Linked DNA regions of Homo sapiens. The protein of the gene in region 2 purifies or fractionates together with the protein of the main gene of each other region. This does not show direct contact. Each region holds a gene or a part of one and is shown on either strand. Other genes may lie near its edges.

The links.
Region 1: the proteins of L3MBTL1 (region 2) and SATB2 purify together in Homo sapiens (affinity purification with mass spectrometry; 2 studies listed by BioGRID and IntAct, with this or other methods). This does not show direct contact.
Region 3: the proteins of L3MBTL1 (region 2) and ZBTB34 purify together in Homo sapiens (affinity purification with mass spectrometry; one large-scale study listed by BioGRID and IntAct). This does not show direct contact.
Region 4: the proteins of L3MBTL1 (region 2) and ZNF195 purify together in Homo sapiens (affinity purification with mass spectrometry; 2 studies listed by BioGRID and IntAct, with this or other methods). This does not show direct contact.

What each region holds. Positions count from the first base shown.
Region 1 is NC_000002.12:199,342,940-199,346,439, forward strand, and holds part of SATB2 (DNA-binding protein SATB2), read right to left. Parts: intron 1-3,500. UniProt on the Homo sapiens protein: Binds to DNA, at nuclear matrix- or scaffold-associated regions. Thought to recognize the sugar-phosphate structure of double-stranded DNA.
Region 2 is NC_000020.11:43,537,729-43,543,689, reverse strand, and holds the end of L3MBTL1 (lethal(3)malignant brain tumor-like protein 1), read right to left. Parts: intron 3,669-5,961; exon of another isoform or gene 3,540-3,668; coding exon 3,382-3,539; intron 2,938-3,381; coding exon 2,875-2,937; coding exon of another isoform or gene 2,782-2,874; exon of another isoform or gene 2,757-2,781; coding exon 2,562-2,756; 3' UTR 1,795-2,561; downstream 1-1,794. UniProt on the Homo sapiens protein: Polycomb group (PcG) protein that specifically recognizes and binds mono- and dimethyllysine residues on target proteins, thereby acting as a 'reader' of a network of post-translational modifications.
Region 3 is NC_000009.12:126,863,639-126,867,138, reverse strand, and holds part of ZBTB34 (zinc finger and BTB domain-containing protein 34), read right to left. Parts: exon of another isoform or gene 3,447-3,500; coding exon of another isoform or gene 3,427-3,446; intron 1-3,426. UniProt on the Homo sapiens protein: May be a transcriptional repressor.
Region 4 is NC_000011.10:3,357,427-3,359,786, forward strand, and holds the end of ZNF195 (zinc finger protein 195), read right to left. Parts: coding exon 1,692-2,360; 3' UTR 501-1,691; downstream 1-500. UniProt on the Homo sapiens protein: May be involved in transcriptional regulation.

The sequences.
Region 1 (3,500 bases), on a different chromosome or scaffold from region 2:
CAGCCATAACAGGGTAATTAATAGTTTCTCTTTGGAGAACTGACATTTGAAATGTTATTTATTATGAATTTAAGTTTTTCATCTGGAAATCTTAAACATGAAAAACTGGGCAGGGTTTTCTTTTCTAACAGTTCCAGGTTTATTTGTAAATGTTTACATATTATTTTATTTTATACACACACACACACACACACACACATACACGATTTGTTCTTGGTATAACCATGAAGCACAAATCCAGGAACACAAAATATAAGGTGACAAAATGAACACACACGATTTGCTCTTGGTATAACCATGAAGCACAAATCCAGGAACACAAAATATAAGGTGACAAAATGTATTAAAATGCTTTTTATTGAATTTGATAATATATGAATAATAGAGATCATGAACTATTTCTGGAAAATATTCAATAGACTGAGGATATGCTACAATGTTTATTTTTGTTTATTATAGCTGGCAAGTCATTATATCATCCATAAACATCTGACTCCACTCAAAAAAGTCTAAACGTTTGGAAAATCTATGGTTGGTTTCATGGGGCATAATATACCATATTTTCCATTTAACAATGCTGCTGGTAAAACCAGCTGCCCAGTCCGGCTGTTAGTGACTACAGTACATACAGCAAAAAACAATCTGCCTGCTGACCTCCTGCTTAAGTTCAAACTATGTCATTCTGTCAGTACCATCTACCTTGATTAGGTTGGGCTTTATACACAACAGGTTATGATCCCAGAGGGATGAAAAGCTTTCCTAAATTAAAAGCAGAATTTTAAAAGGAAATACTCATACATTCCTACGCAGTTTCCATTTGATATCCTCAAGGCTGGCCCATGAACTCAAGCTCATGTTGATTGAAAGTGAATGTTTCTTTCTAGGTGTAGCCATCTTACAAATTTAATGGCAGGAGGAAAATAATAAAATGTGTTTCATGCTTCAATTAGACCTTTTATAACTTGGCACTTGAAAGATGGCAACGCCAAAGAAAAATCATTAATCCATAAAAATAGACAAAAAGGATTATATGGGAGAAGACAGACCTCCAGGAGTCTAGGTCCTTGGCAAAGTATACACTCTCGCCAATATGGTCTGTCTTTGTTTTGCCTCATTGTGAGTCTTCTCTCATGCTTCATGCTACTTGGATAAAATGTATACTGTATTTGCTTCTAAAATCCAAAGTAATACAACCATGCTTTCAATTTTATCCTTAGCCAAAGGAGCTGTATACATAACCAGGCAATAAAATGTTGGCTAGCCATGAAATGCCTATTCATGCACATGAAGGACAGATGAACGAACACACACACACAACACACACACACACACAGAGACAGAGAACTGCAAAATACAGAGCCAAAAGATAGATCCTTCCAATTTTTATTTTGCAGTAGTATGCAACAGACTTTCTCAAAAGGACCAGAGCCTTTCATAACCCCAGTCCAGACAACTATGGACACACAAATATTGCCCGAGTACTTTGAATCACGAGAGAAAGTGGAAGAGTGATGTCTGGAACATGTGAGAGTCTCTCAGGACCTCCAAACTCATTTTCAAGTGATGTTAACAGACTCTGTCAATATTAGAATGTATAAATTAGCTAAGAGTCAAGGGAACAAGAGATTTTTACCTCTCTTGGCCTCCTGCCATACCGAAAATGTCAGCACCAAACCTCAAACAGTCCCACTGTGTTTCTTCCTTGCTCCCAGTCCTGAAGTTCCAGCACCGCTGAAGACCGTTACCAAACCACAATGATTGGTATCATCACCAGTTCATGCTGTGAACTTCCCAAATCCTGTGATCTCAAATTGACCCCCTATCACTTCCAAACTGTCCACCCACTTTGGCCTCCCTTTCAACACCAAATTTTGGAAAGTGTCATGTACTTACTTCTGCATCCTCAACAGCTAATCACTCTTTAACTCCTGAATTCTGGCTCCTGTCCCCACTACTTTAATGAAATTATACTCTAAACTTCGCCAGTCTTCTCCCAACCAACTGCCAAATCTCATGACATGGTTTTAAGCCTCTCTCTCTTAACTTCTCAGCTTTCCACAAGTAGACAAGTCTTCTTCTGGAAACTCTCCACGCATGTCCTCTATACTCTCACTACTGTCTCCCTCTTCTTCCTTCTCCACCTGCCCCCATCTCCTGGCATTTCTTCTCTCTTTCCTGGGGCTGGTGCTGCTGCTGCTGGTGGTGGTGATAGCAGTGATTTCTCCCCTTCTCTCCCCTGACTCTTCCATTTCCTGTCCCAGGCTCTGTGACAACATCTCTAATCTCTTGCTCTAGTCCTGATAACTCTTCTTCCTAGCGCCAAACTCATATTTTCTTTTTCTTTTCTTTTTTTTTATTATTCTAGGGTACATGTGCACAACGTGCAGGTTTGTTACATATGTATACATGTGCCATGTTGGTGTGCTGCACTCATTAGCTCGTCATTTACATTAGGTATATCTCCTAATGCTATCCCTCCCCCCTCCCCCCACAAACTCATATTTTCAATGACTGTTGCACATTTTCACTTAAGAAGTTGGTCAACACTTCAACGTCAAAATAACCCAATCTAAAACTATCACTTTAACCTTACTCCAACCACTCTTTCCATGTCTTCCTGGATTCCCTTCATAATTACACCTTTATTCTCAGGCATCAGGCTTGAAGCCTGGTGTCAGTTCTATTCCTCTCTTTATCCATTTATACACTTTCTGTCCATTTTATTTCCAAAATATTTCTTCTCTGCACCCTCCCCAGCAGCCTAGTTCAAAACCTCTGTACATTTCACCTGGATACTTGCAGTAGCCTGCTAAATGATATTCCTACCCTCTTGCTATCAAACCTCCATAAGACCTAATTAAGATGGTGGGAGCACAGCATATTCCTACCTAAGACCTATGACGGTTTCCAGTGCCTGTTAAAGTTCAGAGCTCTTGTCTTGGCACTCAAGGCCTTTTTCAATCTGTGTCCATCCCTTTTAAGTTTTATTATCTACCTTTCTTATCAACTACCAACTATACTTGCAGTTTTTATACTTACAAATTGATAATAACTCTTTACAAGCAAAGAAAATATAAAAAATATCTTTACACCAAAAAGAGTAGTTTTTCCCATAAAAAGGTAGAATATATATAATAAGAGATAACAAAACTTGCCACGAGGCCAGTAAGAAAATCCCAACCATTAACAAAAACTTATTTTTCTTTTTTTCTTTTTCTTTTTTTTTTTTGAGACAGAGTCTCGCTCTGTTGCCAGGCTGGAGTGCAGTGGCGCAATCTCGGCTCACTGCACCCTCCACCTCCTGGGTTCAAGTGATTCTCCTACCTCAGCCTCCCAAGTAGCTGGGATTACAGGCACACGCCACCACGCCCAGCTAATTTTTGTATTTTTAGTGGAGACGAGGTTTCACCATGTTGGCCAGGATGGTCTCGATCTCTTGACCTCGTGATCTGCCACCCTCAGCCTCCCAAAGTGCAGGGATTATAGGCGTGAGCCACCGC
Region 2 (5,961 bases):
AATCATCAGTTAAGCCAGAGAGAGCCCACTCCTGGAGCATTGTCCTACATGGGGAAACTGATGACATGGGCCAGACACTGGAGATGGTGATCCTCAGACCCCATAAAGGTCCTGCTCCACTCTGAGATTCTATTTAATGCTGGCAGTCTACCAGTACACCTCCCTTTGGCCACTAGTTTTTTATATCACAGACCATGCTGAACCAAGAGACACAGCAAATGTTCCTGGGAGACACAGCCCTTGTCACAAGAAGAAGAGAATGTAAAGCCAAGCATAGGCTGGAGGATGAAACTTGGGTGGCTCTGCAGCTGGCTGAACAACTACATTCGAAGACCTGTGGTCAACCGACAGAAAGGTTTGAAACAGCGTGCCACGTGGTTCTGCCTTCTCATAAAACATGTTAAGACTTGGACAAAGACACAGAAGGCTTAGTTATCAAATGTGCAAGCTGTATGAGGTTGGAAAGCCTTATTAACATCGTAGATGACAGAATCAAGATTTAAAACAAGGCTATGAAACCAACCAGATAACATTTAATAGGGTGGATGTAAAGTTTTACATGAGGTTATTAAAAAAAAAAAAACTCAGTGGTGCAAGTACTCACTGGAAAATTTGGTTCGACTGTAGTTGACATGAAAACCACCTGGGGGCTTTTATGAACCCCAAACTAGTGTGATGTGGCTATAATAAAGCTAGGGCAAACTTAAGTTTTGCTAACAAAAAAATAGGGTTCAAATCTAGGGGAAGAGAAAATAACCCTAATGTTGACCATTAACAAGAAATTATGGTATACTCATGAAATGGAACACCAGTCAGCAATAAACAAACTACAGATACAGATAACAACGTGGAGAAGCCTCAAAAACATGACACTGTGCAGAGACAGACCTAGAAGAGTACATGCTCTATGATTCCATTTATATGAGTTCCAGAACAGGCAAAGCTCATCTATGACGCTAGAAATTAGAAAAGTGGTTGTCTTTTGGGGTGCGGACTGACTAAAAGGGGCTGAGAAAGAACTTTCTGGTATGAGGGAAATGTCTGTATCTTTTTCTTTTCTTTTTTTTTTTTTTTTTTTGTTAAATTTTTTTTGTATGACTTAACACGAGAGGAAATGTCTGTACCTTGATTGAAATGTTGAGTTCAAGGGCAGACATGTCATAAAACCTGTGAAATTGTACTTTCAAGATGTGTGCCTATCTCTCTATAGGCATTTTATCTCAATTAAAACACTTCTAGGGGAGCAGCACCCCGGTGTGTTCTATGTTGGCCAGAGGCCATCGAAAACAGGGAGTTCAGCTCTGGACACGTACATGAAGAGAAGATCACCAACACAGAGGGCAAGGAAAGCACCTGGAAGTGGGAGGAGTTTGGGAGCTCCACCACACACAGCTCAAAGGAGGAAACTGGCTGTGCTGGGCTTGGATACAGACACTCTTCCAGGGCAAGAAGAGCCAACTACTTTCTTTTTATGTTTTTTGAGACAGAGTTTCGTTCTGTTGCCCAGACCGGAGTGCAGTGGTGCAATCCCGGCTCACTGCAACCTCCTCCTTCCAAGTTCAAGTGATTCTCCTGCCTCAGCCTCCCGAGTAGCTGGGACTACAGGTGCATGCCACCACACCCAGTTAATTTTGTAATTTTAGTAGAGACAGGGTTTCACCATGTTGGCCAGGCTGGTCTTGAACTCCTGACCTCAGGTGATCCACCCACCGTGGCCTCCCGAAGTCCTGAGATTACAGGCGTGAGCCACTGTGCCCGGCCGACAAAGTTCTTTACTTAAGGACAACTATGCACTAAAAGTCAAAACTGGTGTTTATTGTGTTCCCACCATAGCAGTCATTTTGTATAGGTAAAGTGATTGGATCTACATATTCCTCCATAATATTGCTCTATTATATACTAGTGATACACAGCCATATGCTACATAAAGACATTTCTGTCAATGATTCCACATTTAAAACCATGGTCCCATAAGATTATAGTGGAACATATACAGAAACCTGATACATGGCCCTTGATATTGGCATTGCAGATCAAGTAGGGGAAATGACTGACATTCAGTAATAATGCTGTGACATTTGGTATTTCATGTGAAAATATACATGTAAATAAAAATACATATAACATCTAGGTTTGTGTAAGTACATTCTATAATGTTTACACAATGACAGAATTGCCTAGTGACACATTTCTAAGAATGTATCCCCATCGTTAAGCAATGCATGACTGTAATTATACTAGACGTTCTGGTATGATTCATTCATCATTTCCAATGCTCACAATGGCTCTGCAAGGTAGACCTCATTAAACCCATTTTATCTCCATTTTACAGACAAGAAGATGTAGGCTCAGAGACAGTAAACAGCTCAAATTGACAGAACTGGGATTTAAACCCAGACTGTCTCCAAAGCTGACATTCTTTTTTTATCTACAACTCACTACTCCTTGGCTCTTGATTTTAAGTGTGTGTTAGGATCCTTGCAGTAAATCACAATATCTGTGTCATTCAAAATACACTTTAATTATCAACTATATTGGATTAAAGGGGAAAAAAGTACACTTTAATATTGACTATCACTGGCAAAGCTAAGTTTGGCAAGCAAATGAGTGGGTAGAGAGCAGAGGAGTGAATGGACTCCTGTCTCCAGGATGCCTTTTCCTTCCTGAAGATGATCTGAGCACACAAGGTCCCCAAGCTGGGCCACAGTCCAGACTAGAGTCTTCCCAGATACATGGGTCACTCTGACTATTCTTGCCTGGTGGGGCAACACGGGTCCCTCCTTAGCAGAAGTGACGCTGGGGAGGGCACCTGCTTCCTGCCGTCTTAAGGACAGTGACCCCGGCTCTGTCTCCCACTCTGCACTTGCACCTTACCTCGTCTTTGAAGAGGCGTGCTTGGTCCTCACAACCTGTCAGGGTCTGAACAAAGCCGAAGACCTTGGAAACCAAAGATGACATGTTGACCAGGGGACAGAGCTTAGGCATGTAGGGAGAGCTGGCCTCCACAGCCTAGGTGCTTCTGAGCTGTGCCAATGCTGCTTTTTCTCACCAGCCTAAAAGGATCCTAGGGTTTCTATGCTGGCAGATGTGCCAAGTTGGGCCCCTTGCTTCTGAGGCCTGGGACCGAAGCCTGCCTCTCCTGCTGGATTTCTGGCTGAAACAGCAGCACAGCCCCCGCCCCCTCTGCCATAATGGACCTATCAGGAAGGGTCTCAGTCAGCCCCTACTGGGCAGCTAGAAGGGACTGTGCACAGGACAGATGAGCAAGAGGTAGTGCCAGGAGTGGTACCGGGTTCTACCTGACCTGGGCCTTTCCACCAGGGTATGGTGAGAGGGAGGAGGAGAGGAAGAGAAGGATAAAGAAGGGCCCTCGCTCCTCACCTCATCGATGGTCCACTTGGCGACTGTCGAGGCTGAGATGCCCGCTACTCCTGGCAGGAGCTTGCAGTGCTGCTCCCAGCACACTGAGAGTGAGCGGTCAGGGTGGGCCGACAGGGCTGACATGAAGAGGGACTGGTGCACGACATCGGGCGTGAGGGCTGGAAAGCAGAGGCAGAGGCTGGCAGGCCAACGAGGATGACTAAACTGTTCCCGAAGCCCATGCATACCCACACCACTCAGGAGACTGGCTGGCAGAGTAGACAGGACTCCGGGCCCCTTCTGACAGCCTGTAGAGTCAAGAGGGTGAGCCGTATCTCCTGACTCCTCACACAGTGTTCACTCCTGCTGGTAAAGTGACTCTCTTAAAGACTCTCAGGTCAGCTATTCGGAATGACCCTCACCCCGTCTCTCTGAGGCTGCACCACCCTGGGCCCTGCAAGGATACTCTCTTGGAGCTGCTGCAGCATCTCTAAAGACATAATTTTCTAGATGCCAACCATCAAAAGGGTCCTTAACATCCAAACAAGCTCAGCCTTGATGTCAGAAGTCCACTCTGTTTACTCTTCTTCTCATGAGTCCTTCCGGGCCACGACCAACTTTCTCAGAGCCAGGGTGATTCTGCTTCAGAATCACAGTCCCCCTGACCAGGCTGAAGACCACCCCTCTGGCCACTGCCATTGCCTCAAGCTCCAGTTCCTCCCCTTCCTCCACCAGCCCGGTCTGTACTACTGCCTATGCCAGCACTAGAGGGTGATCCCTGACCCACTCCCCAGCTCCATGTTGCCTGTGGCTTTGCTTCCTGGTCTGCCTCTGGGATCACTGGCCCCAACCTCCTACCTCAAGCAGCTGTACTGAGCTGATGACCGATGCTGCTCAGCTTGGCCTCCCCCTTGGTGGGGCCTGGCACGTGCCAACTTGGACTTCATCCCCCTCTGGCTGCTTTGACAAACCTGGCCCCACTCACTGCTGTCAGCCTTGGCCGGCCTTGTGCAATGTGGCCACTTTCCCAAGGGGTTTTCCCAGCCTCTGTCCATGGTCCAGGAGCATTGGCTCTTTATTCTCCTGGTGCTAATTCCAGATGCTCATCAATGCAGCACCTCCAAGTGCCCTCTTGTCAAAGACCCTCCCTGTTGGTCACAGATTGTCCTGCCCTCTCTCCCTGAGTGTCAGCCTTTCAGCCTGGCTTTTCCACCTCCATTCACCCACAAAGCCTCTGGGATTCCATCCTCAGCCCTACCAACCACACTTCTGTGCCACTGCCTTCCTGCTGCTCTCTCTGTTCATCAGCGAAATCCTAATACCTGCCCATACCCCAGACAGCCCCATCTCCCTGCTCAGCCAGCTCCTCTCATGGCCCGTCTGGGGCACACTCAGCATCTCTCATGACAGCTAGCACCACTAGCACCTCATCTACCTGGCCACAGGTTTGGCCTCTGGTACACCCAGGTACTCCCTCTCTGAAACCCTGTATCTGGGTTTCATACCCTGGGGTGGGGTTTGGGAGACAACATCAAGTTTGTAGGGAGCTTTTCTCCTTATCTTTCTTCCCCAGAGCACAGGGAAGAGCACAGGCCAGGAGTGCTTACCAGCAGTTACAGTGTCTTATCTAACTGCAGACCATCCAGTTGCAGGTCAGACATGGCTCCTCAGTTCCTTCAGTAGCTGACACTCCTAGGCCTAAAGACTAAGCCCAGCCAAGCCCTGTCCTCTCCGGGCAGATCTTCCTATGGAATTGTTCACCAGCAAACCTCAGAGCCTACACTAAGGAGGTCTACCCACCAGTATGTAAGAAGTTGCCTCTGGAACAAAACCCAGAGTGACCAGTGGCTCTTCTGGGTGACAGGCCAGCTAGAAGAGCAGGGGTGCCCTGTGGAAGTGAGACCTGGGCAATGACCCCTGCTCTATCCTTGAAGTGCCTCAAGGATCTGGGTGAGCCCTTCTTTGCCAGTTCCGTGACATAGTCTCAGCCTCTGGAAAGATGTAGCTTCCCAAGAATTCTACAGCCTAATTCTGGGATGAACACAGTAGGCAAGTGCCCTCTGGTGGTCAGAACTTGGTCCTGCAGTGGACTTGACCATGGGTACCACAGATGGGTACAAGAGGTGCCCACTGCAGTTTGATCCTTAGGAGTCCTTACTCTGAGGGTCTAGGTGCTGGCCAAGACCCTCATCACTCAGGTCTGAGGCTGAAGAAACTGCTTCTGTTCCCACAAAGAGGAAACAGTATGAGATGACAGCAAGAGGAAGTGAGGCAAGAGACTCAGACTAATAATACTGGCAGGGAGCTGTGCTAAGCACCTCACATGGAACATCTCAGTTAAGCCTCTCACCACATCATACGGTGGGTACGATTATTATCAGCATTTTACAGATAAGGAAGGTGAGGCTCAGAGAGGAGTGTCACCCACCCAAGATCTCTCAGCCTGTAAAAGGTAGTCTGACTTCAGGGCTATGCTTTTTATCACTATGTTACTTACTGCCCAGGTTACAGAGACTGTTCTTGAAGAATTGGGACAGCTTGGGTCTCGCCAAGGTGCACTAAACCAGGTGATTTCTCAAGGTCTCTTTTAGCCTTAAAATG
Region 3 (3,500 bases), on a different chromosome or scaffold from region 2:
AAAAAAAAAAAAGGAACCCCCAAAGGAAACTGGTTTCAAAAAATATAATCAACAATGAAATACTACGCAGCTATTAAGAAGAGTGGGTAGATCTGTATGCTTTGATATGGAAGGAGTGCTAAGATTTAGCCAAAAACAGCAAGATGTAGACTAATATGTATGCATATATGTCATTCCCTTCATGTACGTTTTGTAAAGGAATTATATTACGTTGCTTGCTGTATCCATTTTGGAAGGAACCACGTGGTACTATTAATGGTGGTCACTGTGGGGAAGGACTAAGGAGAGGGAAGGGAAACAGACTTTATTTTATACCTTTGCATTTAAAAAATCACATAACTATTATTCTCACTAAAATTTTTTTTTAAGCCATGTAGGTTAGTACCTACAAATATATAATTTTTTAAACCAAGGAATCTAGAGTAGAAAGATGGGCTGCAAATGGATAATTATTACATCAAGCAGACAGTTATAAAGGCAGAAACGAAGAACTACAAGGAACAATACAAGGCTGATTACTTTTGACCAAAAAGATTTTTAAAAAATCAAAATAGAACAAAAGAAAACTTCATGGAGGAAGATATTTTTGAACAAGGCCTTGCATTTCAAAGGGAAAAAAAAGAACACTCCAGACAGAAGGAAAAGCAGGAACAGGGCACAGGGGAATGCAAACAGCGTCTGGGGTAGAGCAGGCAGCATGCAGTGGCCCCAGCTCAGGGACAAGGAAGGCCATGGAAGGAGAAGGCCACAGTCAGAAGGTGGAGGGCCTTGAATACTCAGAGAACTCAAACAGAATTCTGGCGGCAGCACCTGGAGACTGAGGCATGGTGTCTACTCGGAGGCCACGTAGCTCAGCCAGGACAAGCTGGGCTCAGGTTTTTCACGGGGTCGTGGGAAATATGGGGCTGGAGCTAGAGAGAAATATTAGACCCGAAGATACTGATTTGGGAGTGACTGTGTACTGACTGAGGATCGTTTTGGTAAAATGAGGTTACTCGGGGAGGGAAAAAAAAAAGAGAGAAGGCTGAGAATAGAAAGGGTGTTTGCTCCTAGAAAAGAGGAATGGAAACACAGCACCTGATGAAGGGGGTAACATCCTCACCTAGCCCTCTCCTCAAGCCTTTCCACTGACTAGTTTTGTTTTTGTTTTGTTTTGAGACAGAGTCTTGCTCTGTGCCCAGGCTGGAGTGCAGTGGTGCAATCTCGGCTCACTGTAACCTCCGCCACCCAGGTTCAAGTGATTCTCATGCCTCAGCCTCCTGAGTAGCTGGGATTACAGGCATGTGCCACCACATTCAGCTAATTTTTGTGTTTTTAGTAGAGACAGGGTTTTACCATGTTGACCAGTCTGGTCTCGAACTCCTGGCCTCAAGGGATCCGCCTGCCTCAGCCTCCCAAAGTGCTGGGATTACAGGAATGAGCTACTGCGCCCGGCCCCATTGGCTAGTATCTTTAAGTAAAATTCTGCACCACGTATTCTGTTAAGCTGTGAGGAAATGCAACAATGGAAAACTAATGACATCCTCTCACACTGCTGACCCATTCTGCAGAGAACCTAAAAATAAGAAGGGACTCTCAGATGCCATCTGGGCAAAACACCCACCTGGGCCTTAAAATCTCCTCTACAACTTTCTTGGATAAAGCCTTGGAACTGTCTCCACATATCAACAACCAGAACAAAAGTAAAAATGTAAAAGCTGAACAATTAGAAATGTGCTGATTCTGTGAGACTCCTCACTGCTGAGCTTCCACTCCTGGCGGTGAGCTCTCTGAGGGCAGGGACTGCGTGCCCAGAGCCCAGCAGTGTGTCTGGGGCAGAGAGGCTCTCAGTACATGTCAACTAAAACAAGCTGGTGGCTCAAGATCCATGGACTGCCACTACAGCCGCACCCTCAGCTCTGAACTTTTCCTTCTGGAGACCCCAGAGATGCGGGATCGTCTCTGCCCACAGCAAAATCTAGCACGGTGGCTTATTCCAACCTAACCCATAAACAGTCTAATTTGCTCCACAAGATGCTACACTTTGTTTAAAAATATCCAGTTACACTTCCAAGAAAAGAAAGGAAAGTTACAAATTTGGAAGTTGTTTAAGGCACCAGGAGGTACCCATTATTCTCAATCAAGATGCTCATGATTCCAAACCCAGATTTGCACCTGCTGGCTTCAGTCATTTGCTGATACCTGAGACACAGCTCAAACGAGGCTTTCTCTGGCAGGCACTGGAAACCTGAAGATCCCTAATTTTCATTTTCATACAAAGTCATTAAAAAGACCACAGACTGAAGCACCGCAGACAAAAGGCATGGTAACAGAAGTAACAATTATATAAAAATAACTTTTCTAGGTATTTCTGCCTGGGTCTAGATTAAAACCAAAATTGAGCTGTCATGAGCTACAATCTAATCTTTTAGAAAGCAGCAGTCAAATAACACCAGGGCTGTGTGAAACATTCTGGTGCTACTGAAACCCAATGCAAGAAAAAAAAAATAAATAAAATGGCATTCTGTGATGGATATTCATGAAGCACTCATCCTAATTTAAAAGAAAACAAGTTTAGAGTTCTTACTGCATTAATTCATGTGAGCCTGAAAGAACATTTTTATCCAAACTGTTACATTTCCTACCAAGGCGTTAACATTCTCCAGGTCTGCTCAGATACACTAATTCCAAGAGGGTGCGATTTGTCTTTTAGTCAATGCAAAACATCATCAGAAGCTTCTTCTGAGCTTTCCAAGCAGGAGAGGAATGGCCTCTTTAATTTTACTAGCAATGACAAGGACTAACGGTCAGTAGGCTCCTACTGTGTACAGTATGGTAAGTAAGCTCTTAGACGACACTAAGAGGCTGCAGTTATCCCCATTCTACAGACGAGGAAGCAAACCCAGAGAGGCTGAGAAACTTACCCAAGGTCACTCAGCTAATGACTGGCTGAGCCAGGATTTGGACCTAGATTTGTCAGTCTCAGACTCAGAACTCTTATCTCTTATAAGAGTAAGATTTTAATCCAGGCATACTGGTGAGATGCAGGATTTTTATTGGTGCTGGATTCTTACTGATCAACTCCGAGTAGAAAGAGAATTCTCATTTAAGGATGTTCCACCACACAGACAAAGTCAGGCTGGGTCTGACACTGTGATGATTAAGGGGTCACAATATGTTGTACTTCAAGTGGTTTGCAGTCATTTCTTTGCAAAATGTCCCTTATTTTTACTTCTGTCAGTGAAGTAGGAAAAAAGATGTTTCATATTTTAATCATTAATTGAGAGGATTTGTTTCAGATAAAATAAGCTTTCTTAAGGCAAATAACTAAAAAATAGTAAGGCACAGCATCTTATCTGCTTACTGCTGGCTAGCATTTCAGGGGCACTGGCCCTGGAAAATACATTAAGTCCTGCCTCTTATGACAAAAGGATTAGAAAAGCTCACCTTGACTTGCATTCTTCCATGAGGTTTTCCTTGCCATCAACATCAACCAGAAAATAACCATTAGAAATTTAACT
Region 4 (2,360 bases), on a different chromosome or scaffold from region 2:
ATGTCTTTGAGGGAGGGGATTGGAAGGCTCCCATAGTGGAATGAGAAAGGGAGGGGTAGAGATGGGAGACTTGGCCGGAGACTAGAATGGTGGGAGAACGCGTCCCTTGTCCCACAGTTCAAGTCGGAGAAGTGCGATAATCCCCAGTTCAGGCATCCTTGATAGGAGATATCGAGGGCCTCCTGGAGGCCAGGAGGAGGAAACCCTTGGCCCAGTGCTGGGTCTTTTAGGAAGGAAAGAGCAGACAAGGGTTCCAGACACAAGGCGAAAGTCTCCTTTACTCAACCCTGAGGAGGCCCTGGTGTTGGATGTGTTCGCCAGCAATGGAAAGTATGTATGAGATCCTTGGGTCTCTAGCAGGTTCTGGAAGGGGGAGTTCAGCCAGGGGAAGGAGGGAGAGAAAGAGAAAGGGAGAAAGGGAGGCCGAACTCTATCACCTTTCCGGGTTTCGGCACCAGAAATGTAAGGTCAGCCAAGAGAAAGGATGAAGAGACCCAAAGTCAGGCAAGCAAGCTTTATTGAGCTGCTTGGCTGCTCCACCACAGTTAGAGGAGGCAGCCCTGCTTACAGACTATAGCAGGTTTTTATAGGGCCAGAACTAGGTCGGGGTGCGGGAGCTGAGTTGGGGGTGCAGGAGAACTGGGTTGGGGTGGGGGAGCTTAGTCGAGGGTGCAGGTGTCTTGTCTGCATCCTGGAGATGTTTTTTGCCAGCTTTGTTATGCGAGGTGAACAGACATGTTAACCGCATCCTGTAACTGTCTGCACAGTTACTGGAGGGATCAGTGAAGGGGGGTTTGTTTTTTGCCCTGGGGTAGCTGTGCAGAGAGCACAAGGGACCGTATTGTAAGTCCTGTGGGAGGGGAAGGGAACGGTCTGATCAGGGTGACCCTAACAGAAGAGTATTATTCTAAACACCTATCTCATAAATCACTTACAAGTATATAAAACAACCACAAAGAGCCTCTCTACCAAGATTTTACTCACGCATCTTACATTTCAGTGTCTTTCACCTTTCACGGACAAGTATATCAGTGATGCACACCTAAGAGAAAAGAATTTCTCATATCTCTGACGCAGCAACAACTGACCATGTGTTTTCACATCAGCACTAGAAATGAAGACACAGCATCTACTGATTTGAGAATAGAATGACATCAATATTCGCTTTTCAAAAATTTAACATTTTTTCAATGCAAAAAAGTATATTTTGAATGTAATTATAACTCTACAAAAACTCAGTCTCATCCTCCTTTTAAACTTAAATATAAATGATCTATTTTAAGTCTAGATGTCTCTGTAGACTCAACACAGGGATTCAGTGTCATTTCTGAACGTGTCCTTGCTTATTTTTCCCATTTAGTGTATTTGCAAAATATCTTTTAGTATGAACTCTAGTGTTTTCTAAGCTATCATTTTTGAACAAATGTTATTCCACATTTATGAGATTTGTTGGGTTTCTCTACAAATTTTCTGAAAGTTTAAGCAACTGATGCAAGTCTTCCATCTAGTATAATTGTAACATTTTTTTCAGAAGAAATACTCTTGTGTGCTCTGGAGACTTATATTTCATGAAAGGTCTTTCAATAGTAATTACATTTATGATAACTTTATTAAGTCTGAACTCTGATGTAAAGTGGGATGCGAGCAGATACTAACGGCTTTGCCTATTTTTATATTTGTTTATTTTTTTCTCAAGTATGAATGCTTTCATGTACAGTCAGGTGTGAGAACTGGGTGAAGGCTTTGCCACACTTTTCACACTTGTAGGGTTTCTCTCCAGTATGAATTCTCTTATGTACAATAAGGTTTGAGGACTGGGTAAAGTTTTTTCCACATTCGTCACATTTGTAGGGTTTCTCTCCAGTATGGGTTTTCTTATGTTTGGTAATGTCTGAGAACCACATGAAGACTCTGCCACATTCTTCACACTTGTAGGGTTTCTCTCCAGTATGAATTCTCTTATGTACAATAAGGTTGGAGGACTGGGTAAAGTTTTTTCCACATTCGTCACATTTGTAGGGCTTCTCTCCAGTATGGGTTTTCTTATGCTTAGTGAGGTCTGATAACTGCTTAAAGATGTTGCCACATTCTTCACACGTGTAGGGTTTTTCTTCAGAATGAGTTCTCTTATGGTTAGAAAGGCTTGAGCAAGTTCTGAAGACCTTCCCACATTCTTCACATTGGTAGGGTTTCTCTCCGGTGTGAATCCTCCTGTGTTCACTGAGGTGTGAGGACTGTGTATAGGCTTTCCCACATTCGTCACATTTGTATGGTTTCTCACCAGTGTGAATTCTCTTATGTTTAGTAAGGTCTGAGAACCACTTGAAGATGCTGTCACATTCCTCACATTTGAAAGGTTT